6 separate regions of the Homo sapiens genome follow, and all the other regions are linked to region 3. Evidence: fine-mapped expression QTL. A gene starts in region 3. Each other region holds a variant in brackets. All regions are shown on one strand. Distances are between the middles of the regions.

The links.
Region 1: its variant is fine-mapped to the expression of FRAS1 in cerebellar hemisphere (GTEx, PIP 0.95).
Region 2: its variant is fine-mapped to the expression of FRAS1 in prefrontal cortex (ROSMAP, PIP 0.92).
Region 4: its variant is fine-mapped to the expression of FRAS1 in aorta (GTEx, PIP above 0.99).
Region 5: its variant is fine-mapped to the expression of FRAS1 in tibial nerve (GTEx, PIP above 0.99).
Region 6: its variant is fine-mapped to the expression of FRAS1 in lung (TOPMed, PIP above 0.99). The same link has a PIP of 0.9 or more in spleen.

Annotation. Positions count from the first base shown.
Region 1 is chr4:78,077,755-78,082,830 of GRCh38, forward strand. The region is part of intron 2 of FRAS1 (Fraser extracellular matrix complex subunit 1); the gene reads left to right. Among named protein-coding and RNA genes, the nearest start is that of FRAS1, 23 kb to the left of the region's middle. The variant C/T (reference allele first, on the strand shown) is at 2,133.
Region 2 is chr4:78,112,781-78,117,856 of GRCh38, forward strand. The region is part of intron 2 of FRAS1 (Fraser extracellular matrix complex subunit 1); the gene reads left to right. Among named protein-coding and RNA genes, the nearest start is that of FRAS1, 58 kb to the left of the region's middle. The variant G/T (reference allele first, on the strand shown) is at 3,035.
Region 3 is chr4:78,055,404-78,060,479 of GRCh38, forward strand. FRAS1 (Fraser extracellular matrix complex subunit 1) reads left to right here and starts at 1,920. Exons shown (of 74, transcript NM_025074.7): 1 at 1,920-2,682. The coding sequence starts at 2,607. RefSeq lists an enhancer at 506-1,477.
Region 4 is chr4:78,291,189-78,296,264 of GRCh38, forward strand. All of the region lies in intron 14 of FRAS1 (Fraser extracellular matrix complex subunit 1), which reads left to right. Among named protein-coding and RNA genes, the nearest start is that of SNORD161, 4.7 kb to the left of the region's middle. The variant C/T (reference allele first, on the strand shown) is at 2,794.
Region 5 is chr4:78,425,650-78,430,725 of GRCh38, forward strand. FRAS1 (Fraser extracellular matrix complex subunit 1) reads left to right here. Exons shown (of 74, transcript NM_025074.7): 36 at 3,446-3,577; 37 at 4,643-4,768. Among named protein-coding and RNA genes, the nearest start is that of ANXA3, 120 kb to the right of the region's middle. The variant T/A (reference allele first, on the strand shown) is at 3,004.
Region 6 is chr4:78,334,097-78,339,172 of GRCh38, forward strand. It overlaps FRAS1 (Fraser extracellular matrix complex subunit 1), which reads left to right. Exons shown (of 74, transcript NM_025074.7): 20 at 3,578-3,721. Among named protein-coding and RNA genes, the nearest start is that of SNORD161, 48 kb to the left of the region's middle. The variant T/C (reference allele first, on the strand shown) is at 2,460.

The DNA.
Region 1 (5,076 bases), 22 kb after region 3:
AGTAGTGTTTTTCAAAAACCAAACCACAAAACACAGAAACACAGTATCATTCCAACTTTTGAGGAGGAAGAACTTTCTTTTTTGTTTTTTTCTAAGAGAAAATGGCCATGTTGCTTTATTTATTATACTGAAAGCAATACAGCCTTGTTCTAAAAAAAAAAAAACAGCAAATATAAAAGAGAGAATGGGAAGAAAACTCCATGAATCCAAGTAATTCCACAAACAAAAATAATTAATACTAAATATTAGATGAGTTTATTGCAGAACTTTTCCTATGTGTGTATTTAACAAAAATGGGCACTGCAATATGCACACTGTTTGGCTAGCTATTTTTTTAACTTAATACTGTATAATAGATATCTTTCTATGTCAATACACAGTTCTATACTATTATTCATTATGGATAGACTATAAGTTATTTTACACATTCCTGTTTATTGGTATTCATATTAATTTGATATTTTGGTGTTGTAAGCAACACTGTGATGAATGTTCTTGCGCACTCTTCAATTATTTCCTTTGGGCACATTCCTTAGCAATGCAACTTTTGAGTCATGTGGTATACATTTTTAAAAAGCATGTTTGTCTATACATTTAATACATATTACCACATTGCCCTTTGGGGAAGTCATACTAATTTACACTGCCATTAGTTAGTATATTCTCTGACTGTAAGGTAAGGATAAAACCTTGGTAAGAATAAAACCAACATTTAGTTTGAGAATGATTAATTTTTAAAAGTTGATGGAATAGAAGATGGTATTAACAAATTTGATGACATTTAAAAATATCTAATAGTGTAAAACTAAAAAGAAAAAATAAAGTACAGGTTTTCAAAGATTTAGTGTTACAAAGAATTACATAGTAGAACTTATAAATAATTCATTCAATAATAATTAAGAACAAAAAAATTTAAAAATGTAAATCTAACCAAAAATAATTCATGTAAGTATTTAAGAAACCACCAAATGTTAGGAATTAAAGTGGCTGAGAATAAGAATAGAGAGTTTACATAAGAGAAAATACAAGTAGCAAACAAATATATTAAGAAGAATTGTTGTTAATAACCAGGTAAAAACTAAATCAGTAATGGGATATAACCTTATACCTGTTTAAAAATTTTAAATTATTAAACCCAGCTTTGATGAGATTTCTGGGAATTTGCCCTAAGAAATCAATTTAGAAGAAAGAAAAGTTATTTGTAAAGAAGTTGCTTTCTGGCATTATGTATGTTATAAAATAAGAAGTTACCTAAATGTCTCTATTAGAGGAGTGGTTAAGTAAATCATCGTAGATTAACTTGACATAGAACATTATGTAGCCATTAAGATAATAGATGAGAAGAGCATGTGGCCATGATGGCACATTTCTGAGGTAATGTTAAGTGAAAGGCTGAGTACTCAATGCAAATCTTGTGATTAAAACTAATTTTAAAAATGTGTCTTTCTGTGATTGGGGTCTCATAAGGGGGAAAAACCCCATTTTTTTGTCAACAAGAGAGAGAGAGCTTGTAAGTAGAGGGTAAGGAATCAGTGGAGAGAAAGGACAGAAGTTGAAAGAGTGAAGAAAAAATGGCTGAAGAAAACCAAGAATGGACCAGATAGATGGGGTGGAATCAAACCACAAGTGGCAGGGACAACTTAGACAAGGTTCTTTCTCAAAGATAGGAGCAAAGTAAGATAAAGTCTATGAAAATTATATTATTTAGGACTCTTAATGTGAGTAATGGAAACTCAACTCAAACTAGCTTAAGCAAAGTCTGTAATGTTCTGCTCCCTCAACTGAAAGTCCAAGGGGATAAAATTAGCTTGAGACTGAGGTATATATGCGTTCACATGATGTCAACATGTGTTTTTCATGCTATCTCTCTTGGCTACACTTTCTTCTGGGTTGGCAGCCTCCTTGTGATGGCAGCATTGATTTATACAGTTCAAATGGCTAATATTCCAAGAGAAAAGTGAGTCCCCTTCAGAGATGCTATCTCCGGCAAAAGTTCCAGAAAACACTCTGATTGTTCTGGCTCAAGTCAAGGATCATACCCCGAGGTAAAATCACACCCTCAATGGGGAAGAAGAAACCTTATGATTTACTACACAGCCAAGTGGAGGAGGGCAGTTCTAAAAGTGAAAGCA[C/T]GCTGGCCAAAGAGAAAGCAGCAGATGTTCTCTACAAGGATAAATAGACATTTGGAGGCAGCTTGGCTTGCTTACAAAGTCTTAAGTGAGAGCCGCCATCTGCCTGGTTGGCCTAATGAACGCTGCTGGAGAAAGCATCATCGGAACCAGGTTTCCTATCTCTTAACTCCCCTTTGGCCCCAAAGGGGCCAACTTACACTACAGGTGGAATGGCATCTCACCTTGCAGCAAATCAGCTCTCTGGCAAACTCACTTGTTTGGAACACAGCTAAGAAACAGGAACTAACAATAAAAGGCCTGTGAAAAGCCAAAATGGATACCACTGTGCCTCTGCCTCGAGAAGCCTGATTGATTTATTCCCCTGGGGAACAGAAAGCCGACTGCTTGCTGTCTGCACTACCTTGGGCTAGAAGAGGAGGCATAATTGCGGTATTCAGAAGTGTCCATTAGATAAGAGGCTGATGTGCTCAGGTGTTCAGGAGAAACGGATGAATGTATAGGAAAGCACTTTGGCCAAATATTTGTGAGGCTTGTTTCTTTGTAACTGTATAGACTTAAAATCATTTTTTTCTATCATAGGCAAGAAGTCGATTAAAGTATCAAATCTTTTGTAAGTGGAATAGCTTTTATCTTAATTGGATACATTCTATGGTTCAGAGTTTGTGCATGTGAACAGTTGGTATGTATCTGCTTTGGAAAATACTGTGTGAAATAATATTTTCTATGCTCAGTTCTGCTTTTGTCATAATTACATAGTTTAAACTGCATACATCAATTGTACAAGCAGATACATGTAAGCATTCTGTAGGTGCATATTAAGATGCATTAATTTTGGGCTCACAAATGCTTTACCACTCGAAATTCCTTTATAGTTTTGGAATATTTATTTTCTCTTCTCATCTTCCATTTCTGTGGCAAGACTATTTTTGTTTCTCTTTTAAATCCTTCATAGTTACATTACCTTTTAAATCTGTCCCAGGACGTCTTACTGAATCAGACTTGAAACTGGGATGTGCAGGCAAGTGGAGATGGGCTATGCATCCCTAAAATCTGTCCTCTTTCCTGTGCTGGAGAAACACGATCTGTCTGTCACAGAAAGCTTGGGTAAATGTTAAACCAGTGTTTAGCTACATACCTTGATTTGTTTGGGGCCTAGGATCCCCCTGGAAAAGAGCTTCAACGCTGAAAACAACTGGAATTCAGACATCTAAGGTCATGTGTTAAAGACTGTGAGGATGGGGGTTTGTGGGGCTGCAGAAAGGAAAGCTAGACTGTAAAGGGCAACAACAGGTTCCCTGAGAGAAAAGTCCCCACAAGGGAGAATATTGGCCTCGTGGAAATCTAGACCAGCAACTTCAATAGAACTTTCTGCCACAGTGAAAATGCTCCATATCTGTGTTGTTTGCTACTCACATGTGGCTACTGAGCACTGGAAATGCAGCTAGTGTGAAAGAGGATCTGGATTGTAAATTTTATTTATTTTTAATTAAATTTAAATAGTTATGCATGGCTAGTAGCTCCCATGCTGGGCAGTGCTGGTATAGATTTTGTAGCAAGACTGTGATGCCCAAAGAAAGCAATGATTGTAGGTAGTTCTGGGCTACATGTGAACTCCCCCTATCCAGCCTCTCAGAGCCATTGTTTACCTGGAAAGGAGAGGGGTAAGGGGGTGAAACCAAAAGAACATATTAATTGAGTTCAGACTTTCTGAGAAACCTGGGCAATAAATTGGCAAGAACCTTATCACTAGCTTTCCCAGCCCCTCTGTGGTAGGTCCTCACTTACCTGTTTGTCTTGGCTAGAGATAGAATCTGGGAGCCTCAGAGTCAGAAGGTAGACAGTTAAGGAAGTCCAGGCCTGAGCAGCTGCCTCAGGGCATCGTAGCTGATGGATGGATGGACAAACACTCTTCTTACCTAAGAAAGCTTCCTTCTTTCCTCCTCCCTCCTTTCTCAAAGAACCCTGGTTTGTTTTTTGGCATTCTCCTTCCTTACGCCATATCCTTTAGAAAAGGAGGGCTGCTTCTCAGGCTTAGTGATTAATTTTCTTTGGTTTAAGTCTGTGCTCTTCTTGTTTAAATTCTTTTTTTCCCGCATCTTACTCATATTCCACTCAAATAGTTTGAAAACCATGTACCTCCTTACACATTTAAAATATTATATCTAACATTTTTTATCAAAAGATGCATGAGTTGCAATGTCTGTAAGTTTTTGCATTTGAAAAATGACACTTTAGGATAGAACTATGACGTCCCTCTCTAATGTTTCCAATAGAATCTGAATACTATAGCAATTTGATTCCCACTGGCACCCATAAAAAATACACAAACTCTTCTTTATTGAAAATATATGTCCTTTCTTTTTCTCACACTTTCACTTTTGAGGCAGTTTTCCTATGGAATTTATCCTATTACCTTTATGCTTGAAAGTCTTTTACTGATCACCCTATTATACTTCTCTGCAATGAAATACATATATAAATTTAAATTTAAAGCATTTGTAATGTTTCCTGTGAACATAAAGCTCAAAGTGTTAAGTAATTTCCTTTGGATTGAGTTATTACAGTTGAGCAAAACAACATAAATACATTAAAATTTTTGATAAATACTTGTTAAATGTTAGAAAGTACAGTTTCATTGGAAATGCATCTCTTAATGAGATGAATGGGGCTTTTTTTTCTTCTGTTAGTTCATCCAGGATGCATATTATTTATTGCTACAGGAGACAGGATTCAGCATCAGTTCTATTCTTATTTTTCACTTGTCTAGATGTAAACTTTGTGGAATTCATTCACATAATAAGTAGATAGGAAAGGAAAGACTTTGTTATAGTCTCTTTGAACTCCTTCTGAATTATAGGCCAAAATCAATTAATTGATCCTTAAAAATTATTTTTAATGATCAGCTGAAAACTTAATTAGGTTTCTCGTCAATTTGTTTAAAAGC
Region 2 (5,076 bases), 57 kb after region 3:
TCGGGCATTTTATTTTTTTAAATTTTTACTTTATTATTTATTTATTTATTCATTTTTTTATTATACTTTAAGTTTTAGGGTACATGTGCACAACGTGCAGGTTTGTTTCATATGTATACATGTGCCATATTGGTGTGCTGCACCCATTAACTCGTCATTTAACATTAGGTATATCTTCTAATGCTATCCCTCCCCGCTCCCTCCACCCCACAACAGGCCCCAGTGTGTGATGTTCCCCTTCCTATGTCCATGTGTTCTCATTGTTCAATTCCCACCTATGAGTGAGAACATGCGGTGTTTGGTTTTTCATCCTTGCGATAGTTTGCTGAGAATGATGGTTTCCAGCTTCATCCATGTCCCTACAAAGGACATGAACTCATCATTTTTTATGGCTGCATAGTATTCCATGGTATATATATTCCACATTTTCTTAATCCAGTCTATCATTGTTGGACATTTGGGTTAGTTCCAAGTCTTTGCTATTGTGAATAGTGCCGCAACAAACATAAGTGTGCACGTGTCTTTATAGCAGCATGATTTATAATCCTTTGGGTATGTAACCAGTAATGGGATGGCTGGGTCAAATGGTATTTCTAGTTCTAGATCCCTGAGGAATCGTCACACTGACTTCCACAATGGTTGAACTAGTTTACAGTCCCACCAACAGTGTAAAAGTGTTCCTATTTCTCCACATCCTCTCCAGCACCTGTTGTTTCCTGACTTTTTAATGATCGCCATTCTAACTGGTGTGAGATGGTATCTCATTGTGGTTTTGATTTGCATTTCTTTGATGGCCAGTGATGATGAGCATTTTTTCATGTGTCTTTTGGCTCCATAAATGTCTTCTTTTGAGAAATGTCTGTTCATATCCTTTGCCCACTTGTTGATGGGGTTGTTTGTTTTTTTCTTGTAAATTTGTTTGAGTTCATTGTAGATTCTGGATATTAGCCCTTTGTTAGATGAGTAGATTGCAAAAATTTTCTCCCGTTCTGTAGGTTGCCTGGTCTCTCTGATGGTAGTTTCTTTTGCTGTGCAGAAGTTCTTTAGTTCAATGAGATCCCATTTGTCAATTTTGGCTTTTGTTGCCATTGCTTTTGGTGTATTAGACATGAAGTCCTTGCCCATGCCTATGTCCTGAATGGTATTGCCTAGGTTTTCTTCTAGGGTTTTTATGGTTTTAGGTCTAACATGTAAGTCTTTAATCCATCTTGAATTAATTTTTGTATAAGGTGTAAGGAAGGGATCTAGTTTCAGCTTTCTATATATGGCTAGCCAGTTTTCCCAGCACCATTTATTAAATAGGGAATTCTTTCCCCATTGCTTGTTTTTCTCAGGTTTGTCAAAGATCAGATAGTTGTAGGTATGCGGCATTACTTCTGAGGGCTCTGTTCTGTTCCATTGGTCTATATATCTGTTTGGGTACCAGTAGCATGCTGTTTTGGTTACTGTAGCCTTGTAGTATAGTTTGAAGTCAGGTAGCGTGATGCCTCCAGCTTTGTTCTTTTGGCTTAGGATTGACTTGGCAATGCAGGCTCTTTTTTTGGTTCCATATGAACTTTAAAGTAGTTTTTTCCAATTCTGTGAAGAAAGTCATTGGTAGGTTGATGGGGATGGCTTTGAATCTATAAATTACCTTGGGAAGTATGGCCATTTTCATGATATTGATTCTTCCTGCTCATGAGCATGGAATGTTCTTCCATTTGTTTGTATCCTCTTTTATTTCATTGAGCAGTGGTTTGTAGTTCTCTTGAAGAGGTCCTTCATGTCCCTTTAAGTTGGATTCCTAGGTATTTTATTCTCTCTGAAGCAATTGTGAATGGGGGTTCACTCATGATTTGGCTCTCTGTTTGTCTGTTATTGGTGTATAAGAATGCTTGTGATTTTTGCACATTGATTTTGTATCCTAAGACTTTGCTGAAGTTGCCTGTCAGCTTAAGGAGATTTTGGGCTGATACGATGGGGTTTTCTAGATATACAGTCATGTCATCTGCAAACAGGGACAATGTGACTTCCTCTTTTCCTAATTGAAAAATCCCTTATTTCCTTCTCCTGCCTGATTGCCCTGGCCAGAACTTCCAACACTATGTTGAATAGGAGTGGTGAGAGAGGGCATCCCTGTCTTGTGCCAGTTTTCAAAGGGAATGCTTCCAGTTTTTGCCCATTCAGTATGATATTGGCTGTGGGTTTGTCATAGATGGCTCTTATTATTTTGAGATACGTCCCATCAATACCTAATTTATTGAGAGTTTTTAGCATGAAGGATTGTTGAATTTTGTCAAAGGCCTTTTCTGCACTATTGAGATAATCATGTGGTTTTTGTCTTTGGTTCTGTTTATATGCTAGATTACGTTTATTGATTTTTGTATGTTGAACCAGCCTTGCATCCCAGGGATGAAGCCCACTTGATCATGGTGGATACGCTTATTGATGTGCTGCTGGATTCGGTTTGCCAGTATTTTATTGAGGATTTTTGCATCCATGTTCATCACGGATATTGGTCTGAAATTCTATTTTTTTGTTGTGTCTCTGCCAGGCTTTGGTATCAGGATGATGCTGGCCTCATAAAATAACTTAGGGAGGATTTCCTCTTTTTCTATTGATTGGAATAGTTTCAGAAGGAATGGTACCAGCTCCTCCTTGTACCTCTGGTAGAATTCGGCTGTGAATCCATCTTGTCCTGGACTTTTTTTGGTTGGTAAGCTATTAATTATTGCCTCAATTTCAGAGCCTGTTATTGATCTATTCAGAGATTCAACTTCTTCCTGGTTTGGTCTTGGGAGGGTGTATGTGTCCAGGAATTTATCCATTTCTTCTAGATTTTCTAGTTTGTTTGTGTAGAGGTGTTTATAGTATTCTCTGATGGTAGTTTGTATTTCTGTGGGATAGGTGGTGATATCCACTTTTTCATTTTTTATTGCATCTATTTGATTCTTCTCTCTTTTCTTCTTTATTAGTCTTGATAGTGGTCTATCAATTTTGTTGATCTTTTCAAAAAATCAGCTCCTGGATTCATTGATTTTTTGAAGTTTTTTTT[G/T]TGTGTCTATTTCCTTCAGTTCTTCTCTGATCTTAGTTATTTTTTGCCTTCTGCTAGCTTTTGAGTGTATTTTCTCTTGCTTCTCTAGTTGTTTTAATTGTGATGTTAGGTTGTCAATTTTAGATCTTTCCTGCTTTCTCTTGTGGACATTTAGTGCTATAAATTTCCGTCTACACACTGCTTTTAATGTGTCCCAGAGATTCTGGTATGTTGTGTCTTTGTTCTCATTGGTTTCAAAGAACATCTTTATTTCTGCCTTCATTTCATTATGTACCCAGTAGTCATTCAGGAGCAGGTTATTCATTTTCCATGTAGTTGAGCAGTTTTGAGTGAGTGTCTTAATCCTGAGTTCTAGTTTGATTGCCCTGTGGTCTGAGAGACAGTTTGTTATAATGTCTGTTCTTTTACATTTGCCAAGGAGTGCTTTACTTCCAACTATGTAGTCAATTTTGGAATAGGTGTGGTGTGGTGCTGAAAAGAATGTGTATTCTGTTGATTTGGGGTGGAGAGTTCTGCAGATGTCTATTAGGTTGCCTTGGTGCAGAGCTGAGTTTAATTCCTGGATATCCTTGTTAACTTTCTGTCTCGTTGATCTGTCTAATGTTGACAGTGGGGTGTTAAAGTTTCCCATTATTATTGTGTGGGAGTCTAAGTCTCTTTGTAGGTCTCTAAGGACTTGCTTTATGAATCTGGGTGCTCCTGTATTGGGTTCATATATATTTAGGATAATTAGCTCTTCTTGTTGAATTGATCCCTTTACCATTACGTAATGGCCTTCTTTGTCTCTTTTGATCTTTCTTGGTTTAAAGTCTGTTTTATCAGAGACTAGGATTGCAATCCCTGCCTTTTTTTGTTTTCCATTTGCTTGGTAGATCTTCCTCCATCCCTTTATTTTGAGCCTATGTGTGTCTCTGCACGTGAGATGGGTCACCTGAATACAGCACACTGATTGGTCTTGACTCTTTATCCCATTTACCAGTCTGTGTCTTTTAATTGGAGCACTTAGCCCATTTACATTTAAGGTTAATTTTGTTATGTGTGAATTTGATCCTGTCATTATGATGTTAGCTGGTTATTTTGCTCATTAGTTGATGCAGTTTCTTCCTAGCCTTGATGATCTTTACAATTTGGCATGTTTTTGCAGTGGGTCTTACCAGTTGTTCCTTTCCATGTTTAGTGCTTCCTTCAGGAGTTCTTTTAGGGCAGGCCTGGTGGCGACAAAATCTCTCAGCATTTGTTTGTCTCTAAAGGATTTTATTTCTCCTTCACTTATGAAGCTTAGTTTGTCTGGATTTGAAATTCTGGGTTGAAAATGCTTGTCTTTAAAGAATGTTGAATATTGGCCCCCACTCTCTTCTGGCTTGTAGAGTTTCTGCCAAGAGATCAGCTGTTGGTCTGATGGGCTTCCCTTTGTGGGTAACCTGACCTTTCTCTCTGGCTGCCCTTAACATTTTTTCCTTCATTTCAACTTTGGTGAATCGGACAATTATGTGTCTTGGAGTTGCTCTTCTCGAGGAATATCTTTGTGGCGTTCTCTATATTTCCTACATTTGAATGTTGGCCTGCCTTGCTAGATTGGGTAAGTTCTCTTGGATAATATCCTGCAGAGTGTTTTCCAACTTGGTTCCGTTCTCCCTGTCACTTTCAGATACACCAATCAGACGTAGATTTGGTTTTTTCACATAGTCCCTTATTTCTTGGAGGCTTTGTTAATTTCTTTTTATTCTTTTTCTCTAAACTTCTCTTCTCGCTTCATTTCATTCATTTGCTCTTCCGTCACTGATACCCTTTCTTCTAGTTGATCGAATCAGCTACTGAGGCTTGCATTCATCATGTAGTTCTCGTGCCATGGTTTTCAGCTCCATCAGGTCTTTTGAAGATTTCTCTGCATTGGTTATTCTAGTTAGCCATTCATCTAATTTTTTTTTCAAGGTTTTTAACTTCTTTGCCATGGGTTCGAACTTCCTCCTTTAGCTCGGAGTAGTTTGATCGTCTGAAGCCTTCTTCTCTCAGCTCATCAAAGTCATTCTCCGTCCAGCTTT
Region 3 (5,076 bases):
CCCGCCCGACCTTTATTTTTGAGACAGAGTCTCGCTGTGTCACCCAGGCTGGAGTGCAGTGGTGAGATCTCTGCTCACTGCAACCTCTGCCTCCCGGGTTCAAGTGATTCTCGTGCCTCAGCCTTCAGAGTACCTGGGATTAAAGGCATGTGCCACCACACGTGGCTAATTTTTGTATTTTTAGTGGAAATGGGGTTTCACCATGTTGGCCAGGCTGGTCTCGAACTCCTGACGTCGTGATCTGCCTGCCTTGGCCTCCCAAAGTGCTGGGATTACAGGCGTGAGCCACCGCACAGGCCCTACTTTCTAAATAAAAAGGGAGGGGTCTTTTTTTGGGAGGAGGTTAAGGCCCGCAGCTCCCCTTGATATGGCCGCTGCTCTCAGGCACTTAATCCATTATTTCAACAAATGTTTAAAGAGCACCTACTATGTGCTTCAATTATACAAAGATGATACAACCTCTGTCCCTAGAATGACCACAGCCCAACAGAGAGACTGAGGGCGAAATGTGCAAACCCTGGGTCCTCCAAATACTTAAGATTCAGAGCCAGGTTGTCAGAGGTTCTCCTTTGTTCTGGCTGAATAGTAACACTGACAGGGACCTGCCAGTTTCAAGTTATTCCAGTTATTCGGAAAAGTGAATTGTTCCAAGTGGCGTCAGTGCACGTTAGAACGTGGGCCCGCGTCATGGTGTTCGTGAAGACTGGAAACAAGTGGGACCCCCGCCAGCACAGCTCATGCAACTGCTTCCCCTCCAACAGTTTCGCCCATCCCGACTCAATTGAGGGACCCGAGACGTTTCTTCTCTGGGCCAATCAGAACCCAGTCAGCATCTCTCTGATGCAACTGTTCCCTTATAAAACGATTAAACGTGGACCAGCTATTTTTATTCGGTCCTATAAAAATAGCTGCCGTCAGTCAGTCCTGGCGGGGAATCAAGGCCTCTGCTCTTCAAGTGCGCGCCCCAGTCGGCCGTGTCCTGATGTTACTTTCCCAGCCATTGGCATCTGGGGGCGCAGCTGGACCCACAGCTCCCAGACCGCGTTGTGTTCCACTGACAGAGTCTCCTAGGGAAAGGGAAAGGTGCATTTGCTCTCAGGCTCCGCCTAGGACACACACACCAAGATCTTCCCGGGCTGCTGGTAAAAGCCAGGATGCAACAGCCTGAGGGTCCCAGAGCGAGGAAGAAGGATCAATCAGGTCCCCCGGACGCACTTAGTTCAGCAGGAGTGGCGGGCTGTGGGGGTGGGAGGTAGCCCCAGGGCCTTTGATGTGGGCACACGCTCCCCCAGCCCGCCGAATCGGTTCCTCCCCTAACAAGGGATGTGGACACGGTTCATCTGCCTTCCGGTGTGCCTGAGCAAGAACTGTGCAACCTATCTCCACCCCCTCCGTCCCCGGTATGAGCACTTTTGATTCCTCCCCAGACAAAGCCAATCTGAACTCCAGCAGAATGAATAAAGGGATCAGGTTGCTCTCCCGGCCTCCCCTCACCTCCCTCCTCGCTTCTCCCTTTCCCCACGTGACTCTCTGGAATTTCGCCAAAGCTCCGAGTCTCTGGGTCCATTTTCACACCGAGCAAAGCAGAGAGGAAGGAGGCAAGGGAGACTAGAGGAAGGCTGAACGTGTGTCCTTTAAACACGGGGTCCAGACCCGGCGTATTTTGGGCGTTTCCAGGCTCTCTCGCCAGAGTGGCCTTGAGTTTGGGGGTCTTTTCCAGCCTCGCTAGCTTTTTCCTCCGTGCAATTAAAATTATGGCTCTTCTTCCACTCCCGTAATCATTGCACCTCTACCCTGCAGACCTCCTCCGGGGTGTTCAGCGCGGAGGTGGGTGTTGGTGTGCAGCAAGCCGCGTCCCCGCAGCCCTCCTCACCCAGGCGAGGGGCGGGGACGAGAAAGTAGCAGCAGCGCCCCCCAGTCTTTCCTCTGAAGCTTCCGAACAGTCTGCTTCAGGGAGCGCAGCCTGAGGCGGTGTGGTGCGGTGCGGCTGCAGGGCGGGCGAGTCCCCGGAGCTGCCCTCAGCGCTGCACAGTTTCCAGCGAGCGGACCCCGGCAGATGAGGTCTGCCGAGCCGGGTGGCTCGACCAAGGAGTGGGTGTGGGTGGGTCTTTCGGGGCTCCCGGCGACCCGCGGTGCCGACGCAACGCCGACGTATGGTGCCAAGCGAACTTTAAAAAGCTGCTTCGGACAAACCAGAGCCAGGATTTCCACTGTCGGGGACCCGGGATCGGAAGGGTCTAGCCCGAGGGAAATGCTGGAAGATCCCATCGGCCAGTGACCAGCAACTTTCCGGCGAGATTTTGACGCGGAGAACTGTGCTCTGCCTCCTCTTATTCTCCCAAAGCTCACGTTGGCGTCCTGCCTTGCGGGGGAACTCGGCGCGCTCTCTGCCTGAGCAGCGAGTGAATTGAACCCCAGCCCGCTCCGGCGCCTCCGGGCTGATGAGTGTCGCTCTCCGCCCGTCCATCTCTTTTTCCCGGAGGTAAAGGCCCGCGGTCCCCCACCTTCAGTGCGCCCGGGTTCCAAGCGCCGGAGCCAGCGTTTTGGCGGAGCCGCTTCTTGGATGCTGAAGGCTGGGCTCCTCCATCGTGGGTGCCGAGGCGGCGATGGGTGTCCTCAAAGTGTGGCTCGGGCTGGCCCTAGCGTTGGCGGAATTTGCAGTATTGCCTCATCATTCCGAAGGTGAGAGAGCGGTGCCGCGTGTGTGTGTGTGTGTGCGTGTGCGTGTGTGTGTGTATGTGTGAGTGATCGTGCAGTTTAAAAATCTCAGCAGGTTTTATGGTATTTCGGTGAGGTGGAAGTTTTTCTGGGAAGGGTGAGGTGGAAGTGAAACTGGAATAGGCTTTTTCTGATAAGATTCCTACTCCTGATTGTTTTGTATTCGGATTACACCCCCGAAACGGCCTCCCTCTCTGCCCTAAGTGCTTTTGGGTGGGTGGGTGGCCGATGGAGGTGACATCTCTGAAACTGATCCTTTTTCTTTCCACCACCTACCTTTCCCCGAAGGGAAAGCAACTGCATGGAGCACAGGTGAGGAGCGAACAATTGCTCTTACCTGTTTAAAAATACTTCTGTTCCTAAGAAACATACAGTCTTTCATCTTAAAGCCCCATCGCTCTCCCGCCCTCCTTACCTCAGTTAGTCTCCCCCTAAAGTCCAGTTAGGATTTTATAACTAACTGGTTGGAGCGTGTTCTGGTCGTGGGCAGTTCAGTTGCACTGAAAGAAATCTCTCCAGTACGGAGAAGCACGAACCAGCCTGCTTCCCAGAACAAAAGTGGTTAATAAGAGTTTAGGTTCATTCTTTTACTTCACCCTCCGCCTCCTGGTTTTCCTCCGAGGCTCCAAGCTACCTGTAAAACCCCGGAGCCGCAGGAGAGAAAAGGAAGCCGTGAGACTAGTTGTCGCCATGATATCAAATGCAATCCGGGCTCAGCCAAATAAATGAGTCAATAAGTAAATCAAGAGTTTGGGGTCATGGGATGCCGGGCCTGGGGACGCGAGGCGCTGTGAGCTCCCTCCTGCTCCGAGGAGCCAGGGAAGTCGCCCCGCCAGTGCTTAGGGAGGGGGAAGGGAGCCGGCGGGCTGGGAGGAAGACGGCTTAATCCACAGCGCCTGGCTCTCGGCTTCCCCTCCCGGCTCCATTCATTATTCATCCAGCTGCGGGAAGAAGAGTTCACCTGCCCAGCCGCAAACCAGAGCCGCGGCTGGGCGGCGGCGGCGGGCGCAGGGCGGGCCGCCTTCTCCGCCCTGGTGCCTAGGAAGGGGCGCGGGGCGGCTCCCGGGAGTCGAGCTCTGGCGCAGGACTGGGGGCTGCGGGAGGCCCGGGGAGGACAAAGCTCTGCCTCGGGTCGACCTCCAGTCACTGGAGCAGCTGCCTTTTCTTTGCTGGCTTCCCAAGAGAAAGGCCTTGGGAATCCACGCACAAGGGTGGGGGACTTTCCCGTGGGTCCAGGTGCTGCCTTCTGCACTCTTCCGGGATGTGTGTCAAGTGTGTATAATCTCCGCGAAAGGCACATCTGGGGCCTGTGCAGCCTTCTCCCAACAGTGCAAGTCCTGTAGAAATATAACTTTATTGTTTATGTGCGTGTGGGCGCGTACTTTGGAAAAAAAAAAAAAAAGCTTGTAGGGCTTGATTATAACAATAAACCAGATGAGAGAGTCACCCCAGGCCACCCAAACCTGAACTTGGTACTTAGAAAAATTAATTTCACTTGGTGGCAGTTTTTAAAATTTAGAGTCCTATCCCAGCAACGCAGGAAACGTGCTATCACTCCCGGATAGCTCACCAGGGGGCAGTTGGAATGGTGCAGCTTGTCGGAACCAAAACTCTGAAATCAACAAAAGGCATTATTATTAAGAGCCTGCAGGGTGCGCTCTTTGGCAGATTGCTTGATCCAGTGGGCCAAGTTTAAGAAGTGCGGAATCTAGACTGGGAGGTGGGGATGGGGGGATGTGAAGCACAGAAAGCTGGGGGTAGAGACGGGGGGCGGGGGCGGGGGCGGAGAGAGGGTGTGGATATTACTCCAAAGAGTCTTTGGAAACTTTGCTTCTTATTGTTTGACTTTACTGTCAGAGCATTCTATAGCTGTTTCACAAATTGGATTGATAAATTGATAGATGTCTGAGTTTCCACCCACGTCATAATGGTGCTTATCTAATAATGAATGAATGAATGAATGAACATGGCCATTTATTGAGCAGGTATTGTTTGCCTGGCTCTTTGCTAAGCACTTTACATACTTTATCTCATTTAATTAGTTTAATTAAGTGATATCACTCCCACAGACAAAAAAACATTTGTCATCTGATGAGACCTCTGGTTTGGTCCTCTCAAGGTTTTCTTTTTCTTTAAAAAATAAGAGCATTGAGATCAAGGTTGGAAACCTCAAGGATCTTAGAAATCTCCTCAAGTTTTTATTATCAGCCTAGAGAATAATTTTTAAAAATAGAAAAGAGACATTCACATGTATACTTCTTTTGATGGGATGTACCTTGTGACACCTTTGCTGACCAGCTTATGGCAGAATTTGTCGTTTTCTTCTCAGTGCACAGAGAGAACAATTGTGGTTGGTAT
Region 4 (5,076 bases), 240 kb after region 3:
GAGTGAATTCACATATTCCATTTAGGGCAGCAGTCCCCAACCTTTTTGGCACGAGGTACTGGTTTCATGGAAGACAATTTTTCCATGGACCGGGGAGCTGGGGGTGGCTTCGGGATGAAACTGTTCCAGCTCAGATCATCAGGCATTAGTTAGATTCTCATAAGCAGCTGCAACCTAGATCCCTCACATAGGCAGTTCACAATAGGGTTTGCACTCACTCCTATGAGGCAGAGCTTGGTGACAATGCTGCCTCACCCACTGCTTGCCTCCTGTTGTGTGGCCCAGTTTCTAACAGGCCACACACTGAAACTGATCTGTGCCTGGGGGTTGGGGACCGCTGGTTTAGGAGATGGTACCTGGTGTCTAGAAAGCCCTTCATATAAGTTTAGAGACTTGGGTTCTGCTTTCTATTGTCCTTCTTCCTTGTTCCTTTTATTTCATTTCCCCTTTCATTCTTTTTTGACCATTGTTCTAGGTCCTGAGTACATGAAGTGTATAAAGTAAATAAGATTCAGTCTTTGCCTATAGTGAGCTCACAGTCAAGGCAGGTTAGTTGTTGCTTATAGAGATGTAAAATAAAACAAAACAAACAAAAACAAAATCCAAAAGCCTTTGAAGTTTATTCTATATCTGAGTGCTGTATGGTCTCAGATTTTGAGACGTAAAGAATCAAACAACTGAACATTTTACAGGATTATAAGGGATAGGATTATTTTGAATGGCACCTCTACCACTTGCTGCAAGAGGGCTTTGGCAAACCATTTAACCTCTCTGAACTTCAATTTTTTCAACTGCAAAATGGGGACGATATTATCTACTTTAAACCATTATTATGAAGGTTAGAAAAGCTGTTTGAAATGTATAAATACATTATGCCTGGCCTTAGTATGTGGACTGTAAAAGGCAGCTATTGATATTATTGAAACCATTCCTTTATTTTTCAACCTATAGAGATAAAAACCAAATAGCTTTCATTAAGTAACAAAAAGCTTTCTGCCATTAATGTCTCATCTAAATAAAATCTGCTTTTATATGTTATGGAGAAGTAAATATATAGAGAACAGTATACTGTATTCTTTATAGCAAATTAAAATCCCTTTTTCTTTTAAAAAGGAAAGAAAATTTTAAGTGCTCAGATTAAACAATGAGAATCTATGATTATTTGTTTCTTAGCCAATATTGTGACATATTTAGAGGAAAAGTTTATAATAAAAAAACCTATAAAATTTACAACTAGGATGTTGACCTAGTTGAGATTTAAAAGCTGTGGCCTGAGCAGAGGACCTTCTGAAGTTAATTATTTGTTGGAACGATGGTTGACTGGAGCAGCCAGTCATTTGCAGAAATGAAGCACTGACCTTGCAAAGCCAGGTCCAAAGCAGCAGGGATTTAATGGGTCTTGGTGTTGTGTTCCAACACATGACTTATCCCAGCCTGGCTGTGCCCTGGGTGGACCTCTTGACAATGGCACCTATGAAACTACTGTTCTGAAATCCAGGAGCCCTCCTCGCAAGACAGGGGCCCCCCTTTCTCTGTTGGGATAGTCATGGCCAAGCTGGTGTCACCTCCATGGCCCTTGCAACATACCCCAGGATTGGAGGGTTAGTCTCAGTTTCATTGCCGGGTCACATACTCAGTTTAGGGGCCCTGCATGTTTCTACCACTGCCTTCACTCATTTTGTTCTACTCTTTAAATCCTATGCATTGTTCAGAACTTCTTTGGCATTCTACAGCAATTATGGTCCCTTACTAAATTGCTGACTGTCTCATAAAGGTGACTTGTTGCTTCAAGTGGTATCTCCTGTCTCTTCGATTCTGTTCATGCATAAATATTTGTGGAGCCTCTTCTATGTACCACGCCCTGTCCCAGACACCAGAGATACAGAGTGAAGCAGACAGAAAACTTCCCTCTAGTTAAGGAACTTAACTTCCTCAATGGGAGGAGAGTGCCTCTAAACAAATAAACAAGATAATATTAAATACTTAGATAGTTATCATTATATGAAATTATTATTATCAGTGCTATAAAGATACCTTACAGGGGAATATGATAGGAAATGATCAGTCATTGGGGCAGGGACATGCCGTATACTTCTGAATTTCACATGGTGCTAAGTATATCTGTGGCCCTCTGGAATAATTTTTGATAGAAAAAATGTGATAAACCATTGCATAGAGAGCAATCAACAGAAATGTACAGGCATGACTAAACTTTGGCTTACAGATGACCTATCTTCCATTTGGCTTCCACTATTTGCTCCTTGTCAGCAATTTCTGGCTAGTGGTGGCCTCAGGATAATTACAGACTCTCTATTTTTCTCACCCCTCTTTTTCTTCTCTTTTCCTCATGTTTAACATAGTTGTGGGCTTTATTAGAGTTGGGAATGTGACTTATAAAATCAACTGTCTTCAAAACTTGGGTCGTGTCCATGGAGTATTTCAGGCCATTCAGAAGGGAAGACAATAGGATTGCCTTCCTAGAATGTAAGTTTTTTTGAGTAAACAAGACCCAATGAGGCAGGTGACAACAGTGTTCCAAGGCCCCTCTCTCTTTGGATATTATATTCATATGCAGAAAAAATGGAGAGAAGAGGGGAAAACAGCTGGTGGTGTTGTGTCTGGGACCTTTGCTTTGGCAGGAAGCTGGCTGTGTTTGGCATTTGTCTTTGCCACTTCTAGACCCTTGCTGTGTATGCCAGAAGACAAATGACAGAACAAAAGTATCACATACCAGCAGAGAAAGCCTGCCACAGATGCCACAGAGTTTATCTTTCAGACAGATCCCATTCTTCC[C/T]GACAAATCTGAACCCCAAAGTATTTCAGCTATGGATTACAAACTAGTGACAAGTCTTCTGGCTTTCTGCCCAGTTTGGAAGGTTCTCAGTTATTTTAGCTAGACTGTATGGCATACGTTCTTTCTCTTCTCCATTCCCCACCCAAGCACTGTCCCTGTTCTGCCCTCCCCTGCTTCTATGCTGCTCACAGAGCTAACAGCACCTCCTTGTTGTTGCTGCTGAGATCTGAGCAGCTGTGTTAGTGCAGCCAGGAGGTCTGAAAACTCTCCCCATCAAAAGGTTGTTTTGGTTTGCGGTCCCGCCTTTGGCTCTTCAGTTTCAGTAGACATCACTGGAGTAGACAATAGGCATTTAATTAACAGGGGCCACTGGGTGTAGGATTGGGGAGGGAACACAGGGAGTCCTAGCAGCTGTGGATTTTCAGTGGTCACAGAGGATGAGTAGAAGCTGAGAAGCTGGTGGTCTTGAAAACCCTTGGATTATACCTATGTTGTCGATTTAGGAATATAGGTAGAGGGGCAGGAAATAGAAGAGATAACTTTACCAGATACTCCTGATGAGCTGAATGTCTTGCTTTGTCCTCTGACTTATGAAGCAATGAAAGGTCCATGTGGACCTGCCAAAGCCTTCATTGGCTGGGAAGTAATTTCCTTTGGTTCAAGTTCTGTGTCTACCAAAGACCCTGCTAAAAATTCAAATATATTACTCAAGACGGGTAAATCATTCAGCTGTATCACAATCATGGTTAATAGGTTAACAAGTTATTTACCTAGCATGTACCTTAGGGAAAAGGACTATAGCTTTCCTCCCTCCATCATTAGGAAAATTACCAAAATTCCCCCCAAATACCAAATGAATTTATGTTTATTCCAAAAAAAAATAATTAAAGTCAATAAAATATAAGGTATAATAAAAAGTCAGCTAAAATTTCTAACTCAAACTCCCCTAAATCACTACTGTTAGTATTTTGGTGTATGTCTTCCTAATTTATAAAGATATCTTTTTGTGTGTCTATACACATACACTTTTTTTTTCAAAACTAAAATCATACTCTATTTACAGTTTTATTGCTTGCTTGCTTTATGTTATTACTTATCCTTCTACAACATCTTTTTAAACCTGTTGTATAATTTTCCATCTCTGGCTATGCAATCATTCATTTAGCCAATCCTCTATGGTTTGATATTTGTTCCCAATTTTTTTAATTATATGTAACCATGATGTAAACATTTTTAGTAGAAATTGTGGTAAATATTTTTGAATCAATTTTTAGACATGTGACTACCGGGTCCAAAGGTTTATGTACAGTGTTTAAGCTTTTTGACACAGAGTAACATATTATACTCTTTTAAGAAAGTTGTACTAATTTGTACTCTTACCAGAAATGTATAAGGGTGCCTACTTGCCAGCACTCTTGTCAACACTAGGTATTACAAGCCTTCTTAAATTGTCAATTTGATTGATGTAAAATGAAATCTTGTTTAATTTTTATCTTTTACCTATTTTGGGGATTCTTATGAAGCATGTGGAGTTAATCATGCTTGTCAGTTGATGGCCCATTTTCATCATTGGTCTGGGCCAAGCTATTCTCTTGCTTATTTGTCTGCCCATCCATCTGCCTGTCTATTCCTTTTGTTATCATGCCCTATTCCCATTCTCCTTCTTCCCAGCTCCCCTTTTAAATAACTACACTAATGTGATTTAGTGTGTACTTTTTGTATGTATATTCTCTTATTGTTTTGTATGCCTGAGTAGATATTTCCTTCTTTTTTTTTTTTTTTAGATGGAGTCTCACTCTGTCACCCAGGCTGTAGTACAGTGGCGCAATCTTGGCTCACTGTAACCTCCGCCTGCCCAGGTTCGAACGATTCTCCTGCCTCAGCCTTCTGAGTAGCTGGGACTACAGGGGTGTGCCACCACACCTGGCTAATTTTATTTTTTTGTATTTTTAGTAGAGACAGGATTTCACCATGTTGGCCAGGCTGGTCTTGAACTCGTGACCTCTAGTGATCCACCCGCGTTGGCCTCCCAAACTGCTGGGATTACAGGCACAAGCCACCAAACTCAGCCAGATATTTCCTTCTTTCTTGACTTTTTTTTTTCTCACTAAGCAGTGTTTCTAGGATGCATACATGTTATTAGGTGGTGCAAAAGTAATTGCAGTTTAAAAATATAATGTGCATGTCTCATCCAGTGCATCTAGTTGCTGCTCTCCTGTTTGGTTTGCATATCTCCAGCTTTTGATGATGCTGAAGATTTTTTTTACGTGTTTGTACTTTTTT
Region 5 (5,076 bases), 370 kb after region 3:
TGAACCCAGTATCAGCTCATTTCTAGTCATAGGCCTCTACATAATTCATACAATCAGTAATGATATATGGCAGATTTTTATATTTTATAAAACAATTTACAATAAAAATTGTACTATTTAATTCTTATAACAATATTTTAAGGATGGATATTATTTTCAGCATTTTAAACCTAAGGATACCAAGTCATTAAGAGTAGATAACCTGGCCAGGTGCAGTGGCTCACACCTGTACTCCCAGCACTTTGGGAGGTGTGAGGAGGGAGGATTCCTTGAGCCCAGGAGTTCAAGACCAGCCCACGCACATAGTAATATTCCTTGTAGTCTCAACTACTCAGAAGGCTGAGGTGGGAGGATTGCTTGAACTGGGGAGGTTGAGGCTGCAGTGAGACATCATTGTGCCATTGCACTCTAGCTGGGTGACAGAGTTAGACCCTGTCTCAAAAAAAAAGTAGATGATCTGCTCAGATTTCCACAGCAGGTAGACAGTAGAAGCAGGATTTTAATACAAGTTTCTGACTTAGAGCATGAGCATGGAATAGCTAGTTTAGTCTGACATGTATGTGTGTTGGTTATGAAAAGTGAGTGTCATGGTAGTATGCCATTTTGGTTTCCAAGCCTCAACTCTTACCTGAAAGCTTGAGTAGGTGAAGGGTTAACAATTAACTTGTCTAGGACTTTAAGTTAAATGATCTTGAACCTATTATACAGTCCCATGGGCCTAGACCTTGGGCTGACCTTAAATTATCTTGCTTCTGCCAGATGTTCCTTTTTTATTGATTTTAAAGAAGAAAAACCCTTGGTATCTAGTAGAAAGCCATGTCGTTTTGGAGAGTTTTGTGAGAGAGAATTTTAAATTGGACAGTTAATGAATAAGGCAGGAAAAAGCCCAAGAGCTGACATTAATTTGTAGAATGAAGGAGAACCACCCATTTTGGTGAATCAGCTAAGATGAGAAGGAAGGCTGATGTTCCTGGGACCTGACTGACTTTAGGACAAATGCAGAAGCTCTGGAGAGCAGTTCTGAGCAAGGAACACACTTAAGGCAAGTGGTGCTCACAGGGGCATTTAGCCCAAAAAGGCATTTGACTGTTTCTCAAAGAAATTAGAGACATTCCTTAAAGAGAGGGATAAATATGCAGTTGCTGACATTTTGATTGGAAGTTTATATGATTGCTTGCAAAACCCTGCACCCAAGTGATAGCTAGTTATGTAATATGCACCAGAAAATAGCTTTTTTCCACTTACTTACAGAGTCAAGAATATGCCTTGTTCACACTAAACAGCTGTATGATGTGACCAAAGCTCTTTAATTTTGTACCTTTTCCCTCCTCCTGTAAAATAAGGATGTTGAAAGCTTCCTGGACTTCCTCCCTGGTATGGTTTGAATGTCCCTTCCCAAACTCATGTTGAAACTTAATCCTCAATGTGGCAGTATTGAGAGGTGGGGCTTTTACAAGGTAATTGAAACCTGAAGGCTCTGCCCTCATGAATGGTTTAATCATTAATGGATTAGTGGATTAATGGTTAATCATGGGAGGGGAGCTGGTGGCTTTCTAAAAAGAGAACAAGAGACTTAAAATCACAAGCTCAGCCCCCTCGCCACGTGACTGCCTACACTGCCTCATGACTCTTCACAGAGTCCCCAACACCAGGAGGCTCTCACCAAATGTACCCCCTCAACCTTGGACTTCCCAGCCTTCATATGTGAAAGAAATAAATTCCTCTTCTCATAAATTACCCAGCTTTAGGTTTTCTGTTATAAGCAACAAAAAATGGACTAAGACATTCCCACTCAGAAATAAAACTAATGTAAAATATAAAGTAAAATAAAATTGCATTTTGCAACTAGTTCTTATCTTAGATTACAGAGACATCAGAGCATCCTGAATCCACTAAAACTTATGAAAAAGTTTGTATGCTTGTCACCAAATCCCCAATAATTAAGAACCATCTGTGCCTATTTTTGAAGATCCAGAGAGGAGATCAAATGTAAAGAAGCAATGACAATAATTTTGACACTTGTCTGAATGACCAGAGCCATAAAACCTTCATTCTCACATGGATAATGTCGTCTTACCTTCAATAGGGCTGTTTCTGAACATCTCCAAGACATGGAGTGTACCTTATAAAATTTAACCATATCTTTCAGATCTGTCTCAAGGGAAAGACAAATCTAAAACTTGAATAGAATCATTACTACACGTCGCTGAGCAATGCTTGACTTTGCTTAAGCAAGATTCTTGCTGGCTTGTTAGTAAGTCCAGAAGAAAGTGAGGAAGGAAACTAGTTTCTCATAACCAACACATAGACAAGCTTATCACACATTTAAAATAATTAACAGTGCAGTTTTCTTAAAGACCACTACAGATAAACACATTGATGAGCTGATGATGCAAATATCCCTCCAAAACTGGCTTTTGGGGAAAAGATAGGGTGTTAAGTTATGGAAAAGTGGAAATAAGCATCAAGGGTGAGGCAATTCTGCTCTCGTATTTTCCTCAGAGATGGATGTTCACTTGGATGTCAAAAAATCCAGGGAAATAAAATCTTAAGGTCACTGTTTTGTTCACTATTTATGTCATTGTGCATCATGACCAAGTAAAAATGGATCTGCTTACTTCCAAACTAATGACATTAGAGACATTGGTATGGGTATTGTCTGTCCTTTTAAAAAGTATTCTTTTTTTTTTTGAGACGAAGTCTCGCTGTATCGCCCAGGCTGGAGTGCAGTGGTGCAATCTCGGCTCACTGCAAGCTCCGCCTCCCAGGTTCACGCCATTCTCCTCCCTCAGCCTCCTGAGTAGCTGGGACTGCAGGTGCCCGCCAACATGCCTGGCTAATTTTTTGTATTTTTTAGTAGAGATGGGGTTTCATCGTGTTAGCCAGGATGGTCTCAATCTCCTGACCTCGTGATCCGCCTGCCTCGGCCTCCCAGAGTGCTGGGATTACAGGTGTGAGCCACTGTGCCCGGCCAAAAGTATTCTTTTCTAATGAGACATAGAC[T/A]TGCCACTTCTAAAAGAGTTCATGAAAGAAAATATTTATTTGGAATAATAAGGGAATGAATTGAATCAAGAAATATTTCCATAATCAAAAGCCTTTACCAGTAGCATCTATGGGTGCAGATTTTGTGTTACCTTCCTTTCCACTAACATTTATCAAGATCACCTTTGTTGTGAAAGTAGCCTCTTAGAATGATTTTGTTATTATGGTTCTTTATCTTTTTTCTTATCCATAGAAAAAAGAATAGCTCACAGTATCTTGCTTGCTTACTTTCTTCATTTGTAAGCATCTCTTCAAAGGTTAAAGTAGTGCAAAAAAGTTTCTAGCTACATATTTGTGGAAACTGCCTGAAGAGGACCAGACTACAAGTTGATTCGTGTGTGTGTGTGCGTGTCTCTGTGTGTGTGTGTGTGTCTCTGTGTGTGTGTGCATTTATCCTTTTTAGTTTCAGATGGAGAACACACAAGTCCGGAGATGGTCCTCACCATTCACTTACTTCCCAGTGATCAGCAACTGCCAGTGTTCCAGGTCACAGCTCCACGGCTGGCGGTCAGCCCAGGAGGCAGCACTTCTGTAGGTAAGAACTGGGAGCCTGATAGAAACATGGCTTTGGAAATGGGATCATATTGCTGCCCCTCTTCAAACCTCTTGATGGTTGCCAAAAAAGCAAACTCTTCTTCCAGAAGTTGCCTGCATTCTCACCTGTATCCTTCCTCCTGCCCATTTCTATGCAAACAGAAGCCGCACAGAGAGAAGGAAATGAAGCCTTCAGAGGCCAGTGTTCAGTGGTGGAACACAACACAGAACTGATTTTCCGGGAGTTTGCTTTGATGCCATCACTAAAATATAAAGTAATAGAGCGGCGAGAAGAACATAGAGGGGAGCAGGATTTCAATGGCGGCTCTTGTTTCTATTTAGAAAGTGAAGAGTAGCAGGAGAAATGTCAGGTCACAAGAAGCTTCAGAAGTTGTGAAGAACTAGAGTTGACCCAGTTATTTTGTATATAATTATATGTACTAATTAGTGAATTTAATCTTTAGAAATGTATTCTTTTATCAAGAACATTTTACTAATAAACAGTAGGTATTGTGATTTTTGTTAGGTGTGTTCTAGAGATCCTTATCCAGTTTCTACATATGGGGTTTGGCCTAAAATTAATTTTTACCAAACTTACAAATAAGCCATGTGTACAAGGATGCCTGTCACTTTAACCCTGCACCTCACCTTTGTGATCATTGCTCACTTGGCTCTTTGTAGCTTTAGAAAAATAAGAAGGGACAAAACAATGAAATGCCAAACAATTTATAGGAGGATTTTCTGGAAGAAAATCTAACCCAGCTAGTCAGGGTTGACCTACCTGTGGGCTTCCTCTGTGCATGCTGTCATTTGTATGGAAGAAAAAAGGTGTTCTAAATTCAGAACTACCTTACATGAACTTTTGGAAGCACCTACTTGCAGTGTAGGAATTGACTGTATTATCTGTTTTTACTCTTTTGTGCCTGATTGGAATGAAGCAGTGCTTTCTGATAACAATCAGATTACCCACAGCATGACTCCTAGCCTGGCCTGCGGTTTTAATATATAGTCTATCGTCTTTAACATACGCTTTCTCTCTCACCACGCTTCCTTCTCCTTGCTGCAGGACTTCAGGTGGTAGTAAGAGATGCTGAGACAGCGCCCAAAGAACTCTTCTTTGAGCTTCGGAGACCTCCACAGCATGGTGTGCTTCTTAAGCATACAGCTGAGTTCCGAAGGCCGATGGCCACAGGTAGCTACACACCTACACACTCTGTCACTGACCTGCTTGGAGGATTTTTTGCTCTACAATCAGTTGTTATGTGTCTCAGACGAGAGCAAAGCGTCTTTGTGATACAGACTATGAGGAGCTATTTTGTGTGTAGTTTCATTGGCTTTGATATTTGAGACTTCTTCGTGTTCCCACTTCCATCCCTGCCCCACACCTGCCCCCGGCCCCACCTTGAACCCTGTGAAACCAGTTCCTTAAACTATAGGTGAAATGGGTGATTTCTGAAACTTGGAGTAAATGCATTCAGAATGACACCATATGAGGGATCA
Region 6 (5,076 bases), 280 kb after region 3:
TTTAAAAAAGTTTAAAAGTTTATGTTTCTGATTATTAAAAAGATATGTGCTCATTGTGGAAGGATTGAAAGTTCAGAATAGGAAAAATAAATGGGGGTTTGGGGATAAAGATAACTGATTATGCCACATCTTAGAAGCAACAAATATTACCCTGGTGATAGATTCCTTTTTGATCTACTTTTTATGCATGTTGTTACATAATTGAGAATAAATTAGAGCTATACTTTTTAATATTTTTTTCAAAACATAAAGTCATAACCAATTTTCTTTTTTTTTTTTTTTTTTTTTTTTTTGAGACGGAGTCTTGCTCCGTCACCAGGCTGGAGTGCAGTGGCACGATCTCAGCTCACTGCAACCTCCGCTTCCCAGGTTCAAGCAATTCTTCTGCCTCAGCCTCCCGAGTAGCTGGGATTACAAGTGCGTGCCACCACACCCAGCTAACTCCTCTATTTTTAGTAGAGACAGGGTTTCACCATGTTGATCAGGCTGGTCGTGATCTCGTGACCTCGTGATCCACCCGCCTCAGCCTCCCAAAGTGCTGGGATTACAGGCATGAGCCACCATGCCCAGCTGTCATAAGCAATTTTCTATGTGATAAAATGTTATATGTACAGATACGTGTGTGTATATTTATCGTTTTCATGGCTGCATATTATTCTATTTCTTTTTCTTTTTTTTAAGAGATGGATTCTCACTCTGTCACCCAGGATGGAGTGCAGTGGCATGATCATAGCTCACTGCAGCCTTGAACTCCTGGGCTCTAGTTATCCTCCTACCTTAGCCTCTCAAGTAGCTGGAACTATAGGCATACACCACCATGCCCAAGTAATTTTTTTTAAATTTTTTGTAGAGACAGGGTCTCACCTTGTTATCAGGCTTGTCCTGAACTCCTGGCCTCAAGCAATCCTCCCTCTTCAGCATCCCAAATCGCGGGATTACAGGTGTGAGTCACTGTATCTGGCTCCATTTCTTTTCACATAAGAAATGAAATTTGGCAACTGGGACACTTGAGGACACTAGGGCGATCTTTTACTTTCTCCCTCTTAATGAGGTACTGCTCTGGTTGTCAATTATTGCCTAATAAACCACCCTAAATTTGTGGCTTAAGACAACAATTGTTATATTTCCCAGTTCTGAGGATTGCTGGGCAGCTCTTTCTTCAGATCCTGCAGGTGGGCTCTTCATTGACGTCTGTCACCTGGGTTGGTCAACAATCTCTTACTCTATGAGGCCTCTTCTCGTGGCTAATTGTACTTCCTCATGGCATGGCAATCTCAGCTAGTCAGTCTTCTAATGTGTCAGCTGTCTTCTCCTGGAATGAGTATTTCAAGAGACCTAAGCAGAAACTGCAAGCTGCCTATCACCTAACCTAAGAAGTCTCACTGTCACTTCTGCTATATTCTGTTGGTCAAAGCAAGATAACCCATATTTGAGCGGGTGAAGGAACAGAATACACCTCTCAGTGGAGGAATGGCTTATGCACACAGTTAGGGATGGATTTGATTATCTTCATCATGGAGACAAGCTACCTTGGGTGTTAATGCACTTGTATGGAATCAAGAATTTGGCACAGGTAACTGTGCACTTCCCAGCCCCACTTTCCCCGGGCTACAGCAGAATAGAGCAAAAGGAGATGGAGGTATTTATTTCCTTCTTTAACATGTCAGTCCAGTATGTTTTTTAAGATCACCTTTATGTTTTAGTGACAGAGATTTTGAAAATCACTAGTTGGGATTAGTACAGAATTTTGTTGGAATTGACACAGTACTAAAATTTAAGGACTTTATTGTAGCACCGTGTGTGGTGGTTTTTTTTTTTTTTTTGGTATATACAGGAAAAAAAACATTCTATCATGATTTCTCTTTTATTTCTAAAAAATAGACAGTTGGGGCCTGCTGATAGGAAAAAGCCAACTGATATGAAATTATATTACATGAATTTCTGGAGTCAGTAAATGTAATAAACTTATGACATGTTTTTAAAATAAATTAATATCTGTTACATTCATCTAGCCTTAAACTTCAAAGAAGTGATTTAGAATGAACACAAATTTAGATGATTGAAGATCAATATTATATTTGTTCTGGAATTCTTTGCCTTTTTCTAACTGTCTTTTTAATCTCTGCAGTCCCCTGGTGAGTTGCTTTACTTTAAATACTCTGTCAAGCTCAGTGGGGGAATGTTCCTGGTTTCTTTGTCATTAGGATTGCCCTTGAGAGCTGTTTCTATCCTTAGGTGCTTTCATCCTAGCCCAGCTGGTTTTTGTATGTATAAAATTGTTTAGGGGAGGAAAGTCTGGGTAGATCTAGCTCTTCTCTGTCCATGCCTCTTTCCGCTGGGAGCCAGCAGATGGATGGTACCATAAGCAGCAGGGCACCCAGGTCACTGGAAATATTCTGATAGGGAGGAAGAACTGGGTGTTGGAAATCATCCAGAGAATGCTATGTCTTTTGGATAGG[T/C]GCTTTCAACATTGAGAGCCTCAGGAATGTAGGAGGGGTGAGAGTGCTATCCTTCTAATCAGCAGTTTATTTTCTTGCTTGCTTGCTTTTTTTTTTTCTTAAATAACTCCTTATCTTCTCTTGGCCTCTTGCCAGAATCCAGAGGCTTTACTTGAAATCTGTGCCTTTGCTTCCCACCAGCCACGTGCCAGGAGGGAATTCATCAGTTCCTGCAAAATCTACCCAGCTCCAGCCCTTCACATCCCCTCCTCTTGGACTCAGACCTGCTTAGACCTCCTTGTCCTTGGCAGAGAAGTTCTTAAATCTGCTTCCATGTGCTTGCTCCTGCTGCTCCCTTGGCAGCGTCAATGCAGCTGCAGCTGCAGCCGCCTCTGATTCTTTGCCACCCTTATCCTTATTGCTTACACCTTACCGTGACTCTCTTGGTTTGTTTCAGTGTTGTATCTCTTGTTAATTTGGTGGTTTTTTTGGAGAAGACATAGCTTTGGCATAACTTTGTCTCTAAGGAATTGAACTTCAGAGGCAGCTCACGATAACCTCCAGAAAGAGGACTTTTTCTGTTCTTTGTATTTTAATTAAGTATTGCTGATAAAATAAGCATCCCAGTGGTAGTGGCTTGAAGGGAGTGTCTGGATGGTGCCTGACTCTAGAGAGAAGTTGCAGTATAGTTTGCTGTGTGTGGATTCCCCCCTCATCTGCTAGAAATTTCTGAGAAGCAAAATGTCCCCTTCTTCTCCCTGTCCCACTCATTCTTTGAGTCATGGTATGTTAGGGTCAGGGAGTCCTACCACTCGTGTTTCTGCTCTGTGACTATGATTTGAACTTCCTTACTTACACAGATGGAGATGATCATGCTGGTCTCTCTGGAATGTGTGGCCGATTTCTCACATATTTATAGTTCTAGATTCCATATTGTGTTCATGGACAGTACTGCCCTTGACATCAGAAATGCAGTCTCTAGGTCAGGTCCAAGGGTGTGCCCGGCTTGCTCAGGAATCTTCTAAAGATGATTAGAGTTGGAGGTCTGCTTTTAATGTAATTTGTGGAATGCATTAAATACTTCACGCATATACATGCTGAGCTGCTAATTCCAATCCTGGTTTTCGTCCCCCTGCCAGAGTGTCACCCAACCTGCAGGCAGTGTCATGGGCCGTTGGAGTCTGACTGCATCTCCTGTTACCCTCACATCTCTCTTACCAATGGTAACTGCAGGACCAGCTGCAGGGAAGAGCAGTTCCTCAACCTCGTGGGATACTGTGCTGGTGAGTGAAACTCCTGTGGACTCCTCGGAAATCACTGGGCAGCTGCCGGGGCTCTTCATACCAGGCTTAAGGGGGCTCTTTGTCCTCAGTTTATGAGCTCTTTTATAGGAGACATTTGTTTCATGTCTGGAAACTCATGTTACTGCTTCTCCTTGGGCATTTAGTAAATACTTGTGGATTTAAATAGAACTTCTAATAATACTCTTGCAAATCCTGAAAATCTCAGACTCTCATATTAATGAAGAATGAAGTGATGATAATAGCACCTTTATATGCATTCAAAACTTCTTAAGATAGCAAAAAGTGTTCTGAAAATAAGTCACTCCAAGCCTTCCTTTCTCTTGTCTGCATTTTGTCCTGCTTCTTGTTGTGGAGAATCTTTGCCATCAGCCCCAGACACAAAATTTTAGAGAGATTAACCTAAAAGTAGATCAGTTGCCTTAGGAGATGGGATTTTTTTTTTCTTCCTCATTTTAGAACTCAGATCTAAAAAAAAAAATTAGGAAAGCAGTCTGAAATTTGAATAATGTTGGAACCAGACATCATTTATGTTCATCTATCTATTCAGACAACAAATGTGCATTTTTGAGTGCCTACTAATGGTCAGATGCTCAGAATACAGGAAAACGATGAAGGAGACAATGACTCCACCACCAAAGAGCCTATAGACTGGGGAGGGGAATTTACTGGGTAATGGGTTATTGTATATTTCTTGATCCACTTTTTCAAACTCTGGGAAAAACTTGCAGAGCTTCTCCTTTATTAGCTGTTGCCTCAGCTCAGAAGGGCTGAACTGGGGAGATCCTGGGATGCTACTGGGCAAATGGGAAAGGTGAGAAAGTGTGCTGAGAGGTTGACCAGGCTGTCAGGCTTGTTCTGGAGCAGGGAAGAGGCATGGCCAGTTGTCTAGATCACAGTATCCAGCAGGCACATTCAGTCTGGGATGGCGCTGACATCTCGGCTGTTCGGTCTGGTGGATTGAGGGTGGGGCGGGGCACAGCAAGTCAGTGGCTGTGCTCCCTGTGGCTGGTGGTGCCATGGTCCAGGTGACCCATTTATTTTTGCATATGACATTAAAGACTAGACATTTTGGTATTAAGGTCTATATCCTAAGAAAACCAAACTGTCAAGCACAGGGCTGCAGCCCAGAATGCTGGATTCGGAGCGGAAGCCCAAGTGTAGAGACTGTGCAAGCCTTTTAGGTGCAACAAAAAGTGGAAATTCAGAGTCCAGGATTTGGACTAATCAGAATTCCTATCAGCTGTAGGATGTGAGTCTATTGCTAGTGATGTTAGTCGTAGTCAGGACTGTCTTGGAAAGTGGGAAAAATGGGAGATAGTAGTGCCCATCCCTGA